Linked DNA regions of Homo sapiens. The protein of the gene in region 2 purifies or fractionates together with the protein of the main gene of each other region. This does not show direct contact. Each region holds a gene or a part of one and is shown on either strand. Other genes may lie near its edges.

Region 1 (3,093 bases), on a different chromosome or scaffold from region 2:
TAAGGTTACAAAGATTAGAAACGTAATTTATGAGGTACTCATTGCAAAGGAAAAAAAAACTTTTTGAAGATTGTTCAAGTACACAGTTACAATTGGAATAAGGCAGCAGAGTATAGCAGAAAAAAATGGGGCCATGGTATCAAATATGTCTTCAACCCCAGCACCACCCTAGGGTGCTCTGAACTTCATGAGTAAAATGTGATAAAAATCTACCTCAAGGGACATGTAGCAGAGTAAATGGTAGAGAACTGGTATTTAAATTTCATTTTCCCTATTTCTCTCGTCCCTCTTAAAAATAATGCCGTGTTCCAAGAACAGAAAACCAAACACCGCATAAATGGGAGCTGAACAATGAGAACACATGGACACAGGGAAGGGAACATCATACACTGGGCCTCTCGGGGGGTGGGGGCGGGGGCTAGAGGAGGGATATCATTAAGAGAAATATCTAATGTAGACGATGGGTTGATGGGTGCAGCAAACTACCATGGCACATGTATACTGATGTAACAAACCTGCATGTTCTGCACATGTATCCCAGAACTTAAAATATAAATATAAATAATAATAATAATAATAATAATACTGTGCTCCATCAGATCTTGCAGTGTATGGTGTTTTTTAGTTAAAACTGAACCATAACACCCTTAATTAACTTTGCTAATAGTGAGATGCTTTTGCCAAATTCCTACTTGCCTCCAATCATCTATCCTGACTTGACTAACATTCTTAATGGGTGGAAGGAGAACAAATGGCCACAAATTAAATGTCTTTATCCATATGAATAGAGTGCAATCGGTCACTGTAACAGGAGTGTCTCAATAATTTATTTATTGACTTTATTATAATTTCAAACATGCAGACAAGTTAAAAATCATGTACAATATAACCCACATACCCACCACCTAGATTTAACAATTGTAACCGTCATAATAATAATGTAGAGAGTAATGATGACATTACCAAAATTTCCTAAGTATATTATTTTCTGATCCCTTGAAGGTATCCAAAACCCACCAACAGAAATCATCCAAAAAGTTTCTTCACTATGAACCCTTCAGTGAACTTTTCCCCATTCATAACATGGGGGCATCGCTGAGGGAGAACTACCAAGGAGCACACAGGGTGAGTTACTCTTTTCCGTAATGACGCCTCTTGGTTTCTTGACTTAGGGAGTCCTGGGCCTGCTCACTTCTATTACTCATATGGCAGATTCTGCTTCTTCCTTCTTTGTACACTTTCAGGTTTTCAATGAAATAGCACAGTTGCCAGATTTAGCTAAGAAAAATACAGGATGCCTAGTTAGCTTGAACGTCAGATAAACAATATAAAAATATAAGTATATCCCAAATATTGTATGGGATATGCTTATACTAAAAAAAAATTTGTTGTTTATCCGAAGTTCAAATTTAACTGGGCATTCTGTATTTTATCTTGCAATCCTGTGAAATAGACAAATTTAATGACCTTCTGAAGGGGGTCTAGATGACTTTGACAGCTGGGCTCTCATGCTTCTAGGTCTGAAGACAAAATGAGAGAAAACTATAGAGAAAGGGAGAGAATATACTTTTGCACTACGACTAAGAAAAAAAATATTTAGAATTGCTTTTAACTGGTTGGGAGCTAGACAGAAAGTCTGAGGTGTATTTGTGTTGGATTTAGTAAGTCATCTGTGAGATTCTGGAGGAAACAGCGTTGTGGAACTGAACAGACTGAATCAATTTATGATTAGGGTTAGAGTCATATGTGTATGGTTTGTTTAACAGGGTGTATTGCACCTATTGCCACATTAATGCTGTATATAAACCAACCACAAACCTTGGTGGTATTGCTGGGGTAAGCATTTATTGCTTACACATCAGAGTAAACTGGGGGCCTGGCTCTTAGGTGATCTAGGCTGGCCTCAGTTGGGAGCTCTGCTCCCTGCATCTCTCATCCTTTTCTTAGGACCATTCAGCTGTTTCAGAGATGTCTTTCTCACAGCAACATTTCAAATACAGTGAAAGCAAGCAGAAACACATGAACCTTTGAGGGCTGGTCTTAGAACTGGCACAGTGTCATTTTCACTTCATTCTGTTACTCTCAAAACCTGCTCCTATGGGTGGGAGAGGGGGCTCTGCCTCTTTAATGAGAGGAGCTGCAAAGTCACACAGCAAAAGGTACGGATGCAAGAGAGGGAAAGAACTGAGGCCATCACTGCTATCACAGCAAAAGGTATGGATGCAAGAGAGAAAGAATTGAGGCCATCACTATGCCTATCGCTATCGCAAGGCGTGGGCTGGAAACTAAGAATAAACTGGGGAGCAAAAAAGTTGCTTCTTTTTGAAAACTATACATTTGTTTGCAACTGTAGCATTTTTTTTCTTCTCCAAGAAAAGTAATTAGCAAGACTTACAAATGATTTTTTCCAGTTTGTGAAGCAGAGATGCCAACAGATCTCTACAAATTACCAGAATGTTCCACAACTCTTCTCAAAATACCTGTCAAAAAAGTTCTGAGCACATGGTGGCATTTTTTCCTTGTTGTAAACACAATGTATCTATATGAACAGTCTAACATATTAAGGATGGAAATTTGCAGGAAAGTGGTAACATTTAAGAGAAAAGGAAAACCAACTGAAGATTCAGAACAAATAACTTCCTATTCTGGTATCCCTTGAAATCTAGCACCAGTTTCTTCATCATTTGCTACATTTAGTCATGGGGAAGAACAAATTAGTAATTGGATGTGGGACTCTGAGACTCCTCTGCTTCTGTGACCTTTGTAAAGTAGCAATCTTTGCACACCTTTTAAATATGTGGATCAAATAAAAATCTTGTTGTCAACTCTGAAATAGCAAATAAATAGGAGATATTTTTACATCTAAAACCTCAGAAATCACTTTGACCCTGGAAATCTTCACTATGACCTCTAATTGCAAGTTCTTTTCTTTCAAGTCAGTTATCAAAATCAGTAGATTTTAAAAATGATGAGTTTGATTCTTAGTTCTTTGATACTTATTTTCTCTACTGGTAGTGGGTACAAAGTAAACTGGAATTAGACACATACATAATTGTATCAATTGGGACGCTTTGGGTTTTAAGCACCTATAAG
Region 2 (4,207 bases):
TCTGGGTTTGCTCTTTGAAGCCTGAAAAGGCAATGGGCTCTGGCCAACAGTGCTCTCACCTTGGCGAGCAGAGGGAATAATAATATAAGCAGCAGCAAACACTTTTATAGCACTTCTCATGTGCCAGGCACGTTTTAAGCACTTTCTATCTATTAACTCATTTAATTCTTATGATATAGATATTATTATCCACAGATGAGGAAACTAAGACACAGAAAGAACTTCCTCAAAGCCACACAACTAGTAAATGGCAGAACCTGGATTTAAAACCCAGGCATTCCAGCTCCCAGTGCCAATCTCTTAAAGGTTTATGACTACAAGGGGTTTCCTTTTATCCCATATACTCTACTGTCCTAGAAAAAACCACCTCTGGTGCTTTCCAAGGCCAAGGAATGGAAATAATGTGAACACGTATGTGGGCTGAAGTTAACATATAAAAGCCCTGATGTGCCTCCAAAACAGAGGCCAGGTACATTCCCCTAATGCCTGGCCACTTTCTTCTCCTATTTTTTCCCCTCTCCTGCCATACTGAAAATCTACAGATAATCCCCCCAACTACCAACTAGGCGAATGCCTTATTAACACTTCTAAGATATTAATAGGTGGACAAATTATTGATCAGACCAATCTATAAGCAAGAGTCCACCCAACTTGCCTTAAATCACCTGACAAATTATGCAGAGCTCTAGCTTCCTACATTTCTACCAGTATCCCAGGGCCTCTGGCTCTATAAAAGGAGCAGGCCATGTAATGAACCCAGACATCCAAACCTACGTTCTTCCCCCTTCCACAGCATCCACCAGCAATTGTCCTTTTAATATTAGTTCTATAATAGACACAAAATAACTGATCTTAAAATGATTGCTAATCAGTTTCCAGCTACTATACAGGTAGGCTTTCTGTTGTTTTCCACTAAAAGTGACTAAGGTTCCGGTTCTTGTTCTACCAACTTCCCGGGGTTTCAAGGAAGCCCAAACAAAACCAACAGGTTTGTAGTCTTGTGGTTTGCTTTATAACTCATGATAGGCATGAGTTAGTCTGGGCATTGCCTTACTCTACACCACCGGATTCTAAACATACTTTTACTACTTGGTCACCATCTTGCTACCAGATTTGACCAAGTTTCTGCATCCCAAGATGTGATGCTAACATATACAGTGAAAAGTCCAGAAAGACTTGGGGGCTTTCTATCTCAGAGATCCTCTTAAGCCCATTCCTACCTAGCAAGGAGTAGCCCTGTAGTAGCTACTACTTCTGTAATAGCCCTGCAGAAGCAGGAAGGAGATGTGCAGTAACTAGGCTTGGTAATCATCAGAAGCTCAAGAGACTCTGGTTTAGAGAATGTCATTAACCGTTAAGACGGCAGGAATCATGATTTTTGTACATTTGGTAGAGGCTCCGGCTTTGGAAGTGTGCAATGATCTTTTCACATCTGGTGTGAATCAAATGCAAGCCTCACTTTCAACTTATTGCCAACCTCCTCATGCAAGTAGGTTCCTTTTCCCCTTCCTAAGTACTTGCATTTGTGGGATCCTCACAGATTTGAGTATCAAAGCAAGGTTAAGTTTGCTTCTCCCTAGTTTCCCCACAGCCACCACATCAAGCTGTTATTAAGAACCCATTTCAGTGCTGTTCAGAAAGTGGGGTACTTGCCACCATGCACTTGACTGTAGCCCTCACCCCACTGCCACGTTGGCTGCAATGCCCCGGACAAAACAGCCTTGGTGGGTAGAGGGGTGGAGGGAGTAGAAAGAAAGGTAGGGGGCAAAACTGCCCAGGTCTCCCCCCCGCTACACACACACACACACACACACACACACACACACACACACGCTCGTACACAAACGATGGTTGGAATGAGACAGCCATATTAAGCAGGTCAAGAATCTGGGAACGTACAACTTCTGGGACACAGGGAGAAGAATGCAGGGAGCTGGGCATTTGCACCACGGTAAAAGCCGTTAAACTTAGTCCAGCGGGCTGAGATGAAATCAGTTCCAGGAGGTGGCATAAAGGGAAGCGCACGTGAAGTGGTGGAGAATGGAACTCCAGCGCAGTTGAGAGGGATGCTGGGGCCAAACTCAAGCTGGAGAAGTAACACACGGCTGCACGGGGCTCTACTCCATGCCCCTCCCCCTCCCCGTGCAATAGTCCAGCGCCCACCGACTCCTGCTCCCAGCGCCAGCCATCCGCACGGGGCGCCCCCACCACGCGCCACTCCTCCTCACGCCTCGCTCCCACCCCCTGCATCTTCCACTCACCCCACACGACACCTCTGCCCACTTTTCGGTTACGCCCCCAAAGCCAGCCTCCATCTGCCAGGTCCCTCCCCTCACCTCCGGGACCCGACTCCCCGCACACTCCGTCCCAGCGGTGCTCCCCACGTTTCACGGCTCCTCGCTCTTGCTCCCTCCGCCCTCATAGACTCTGAACGCCCCCTTTCTCTTCCCTCGCCCCCATCCACTTTCCCCTCACACTTCTCCCCGTCCCCCTCCCGCGGTCACGCGCCCCCCCTCCCCCAATGGCTCCTTCCACGGCACCCGCTCCAGGCCCGGCTCACCTGCACGGCCACCCCCGTCCCGGCGCTGGTGCGGCTGCTGCAGCTGGAAGGGGATCGTGGCCCTGAGCGGCTGCAGCCCAGCCCGGGGGGAGCCGGCGGGGGCTGGGGGAGAGCAGCCCCGCCGGAGCCCCCCGGCCCCTCCGCGCCCCGGCCCCCAGGCACCTCCGCCTCTGCCGCCCGCTGCGGCCCCCGCCATGGCTCTCCCGGCTGCCTGCCTCAGCCCCACTGCGAGACTCACACAGCCCCCCAACCCCCGAGGCCGCTGCTTATCTGCTGTACGGGGCGGGGACCGGCCCCCTCATCCTAGAGCTGTCATTGGACTGCGGAAACCCAGACCTTCCACCCCAGCCAATCCACAGCTTAGCCTTCCCTTTCCTGAGGATGATTGGTCGATGAGCCTAGCGATCCAAGCCAAGACCCCACCCTCACACCGCCCCCTTCGGTTTTCCAACATCCCAGGGGCTGCTGATTGGCCTGTACAGAAGAGGGCTGGTTCTCCAGCGCCACCAATGAGAAGACGCAGAATAGGGGAGCGTCACACCCAGTCCCAGGTAGTATGCAAATATAATGTCACGTGACGTCAGGCTGAGCTGGAGAGTGGGCGCGGCGCTGGGTGTAGGTTGGAGTCAAACACTAGTGAAATAATTTTTGGGGGCGGGAGTAGGGAGCAGTGTCAAACTTTACACAGTTGAGTCCCTGAATCACAGAGAAAGCGATACCTTCAAAAAGTATTACATTTAATTTAACCTAAAAAACATTAGTTTTAAATCCTTATAGGATCTCAGTGCTACTTACAAGCTCCAAACTAAGATCCTACAAATTAATGCAAGGTTTGCATATCATTTGCATGTGATTTGCATTATATTTGTGTATTTAATGGCGACCTTGCCTCGTGTGACACTTACATCTGTCTTTCTCCACGTTTCCAAGTCCCTACTTGGTGTTGATCCAACCTTAAAAAAACAATTGCTAGCCTGTAAATTAAATTGGGACTCTGAAAAGAAGCAGGGAATTTCCCTTCAGAGTCGTCCACTCCAAGTCTAGCTCAGCAGAGTGAAAGGAACAAAGCAACTGAAAAACTTGCCCAAGTTTGCACCGCGACTCCGTTAACAAATCCTGGTCTTCCAAGATCAATGCTCTCTGACTTACAAGTCAGAATGAGACTGGAAGGTCCCCAAAGAGAATGCATGCAGTTGTGAAAAGCACATGATATAATAATATAAAGGGATTTGGGAAAGAAAATAACATTTAAGATACTATTAAAAAGTATTATGCTTCAAAAGAAAAAAAATATTACTCTTGGTATTTGTTAACCATTTTGTTCTACATATGGAAAAAGCAAAAGTCAATCAACCCTGGATTGTCTGTGATTGGGGACCATTCAAATAATTGAATAATTCCCTCCAGATTTATATTTAGCTGTGAATTCTATTTTTGATCTTGCTACAGATTTTTCTTTCTATTTCTGTTTTTGCCCAGTTTAATGTTAAAAAGAAGATATTCCCTGAAGCCATACTAACTAATCAGAGAAAAAGAGGTAATCTGGGAGCCTGCTGTGAGGCAAAGAGAAGTCATTCTGGGATTAAATATTGAAAGTAGATAATACCCAAAGTGGAAATTCAAGAGTGGGTTGAATATTAAAATTAG

Evidence for each region.
Region 1: the proteins of FAM117A (region 2) and COBLL1 purify together in Homo sapiens (affinity purification with mass spectrometry, with the first as the bait; one large-scale study listed by BioGRID). This does not show direct contact.

Annotation. Positions count from the first base shown.
Region 1 is NC_000002.12:164,679,380-164,682,472, forward strand, and holds the end of COBLL1 (cordon-bleu protein-like 1), read right to left. Parts: 3' UTR 809-3,093; downstream 1-808.
Region 2 is NC_000017.11:49,761,332-49,765,538, forward strand, and holds the start of FAM117A (protein FAM117A), read right to left. Parts: upstream 2,801-4,207; 5' UTR 2,757-2,800; coding exon 2,561-2,756; intron 1-2,560.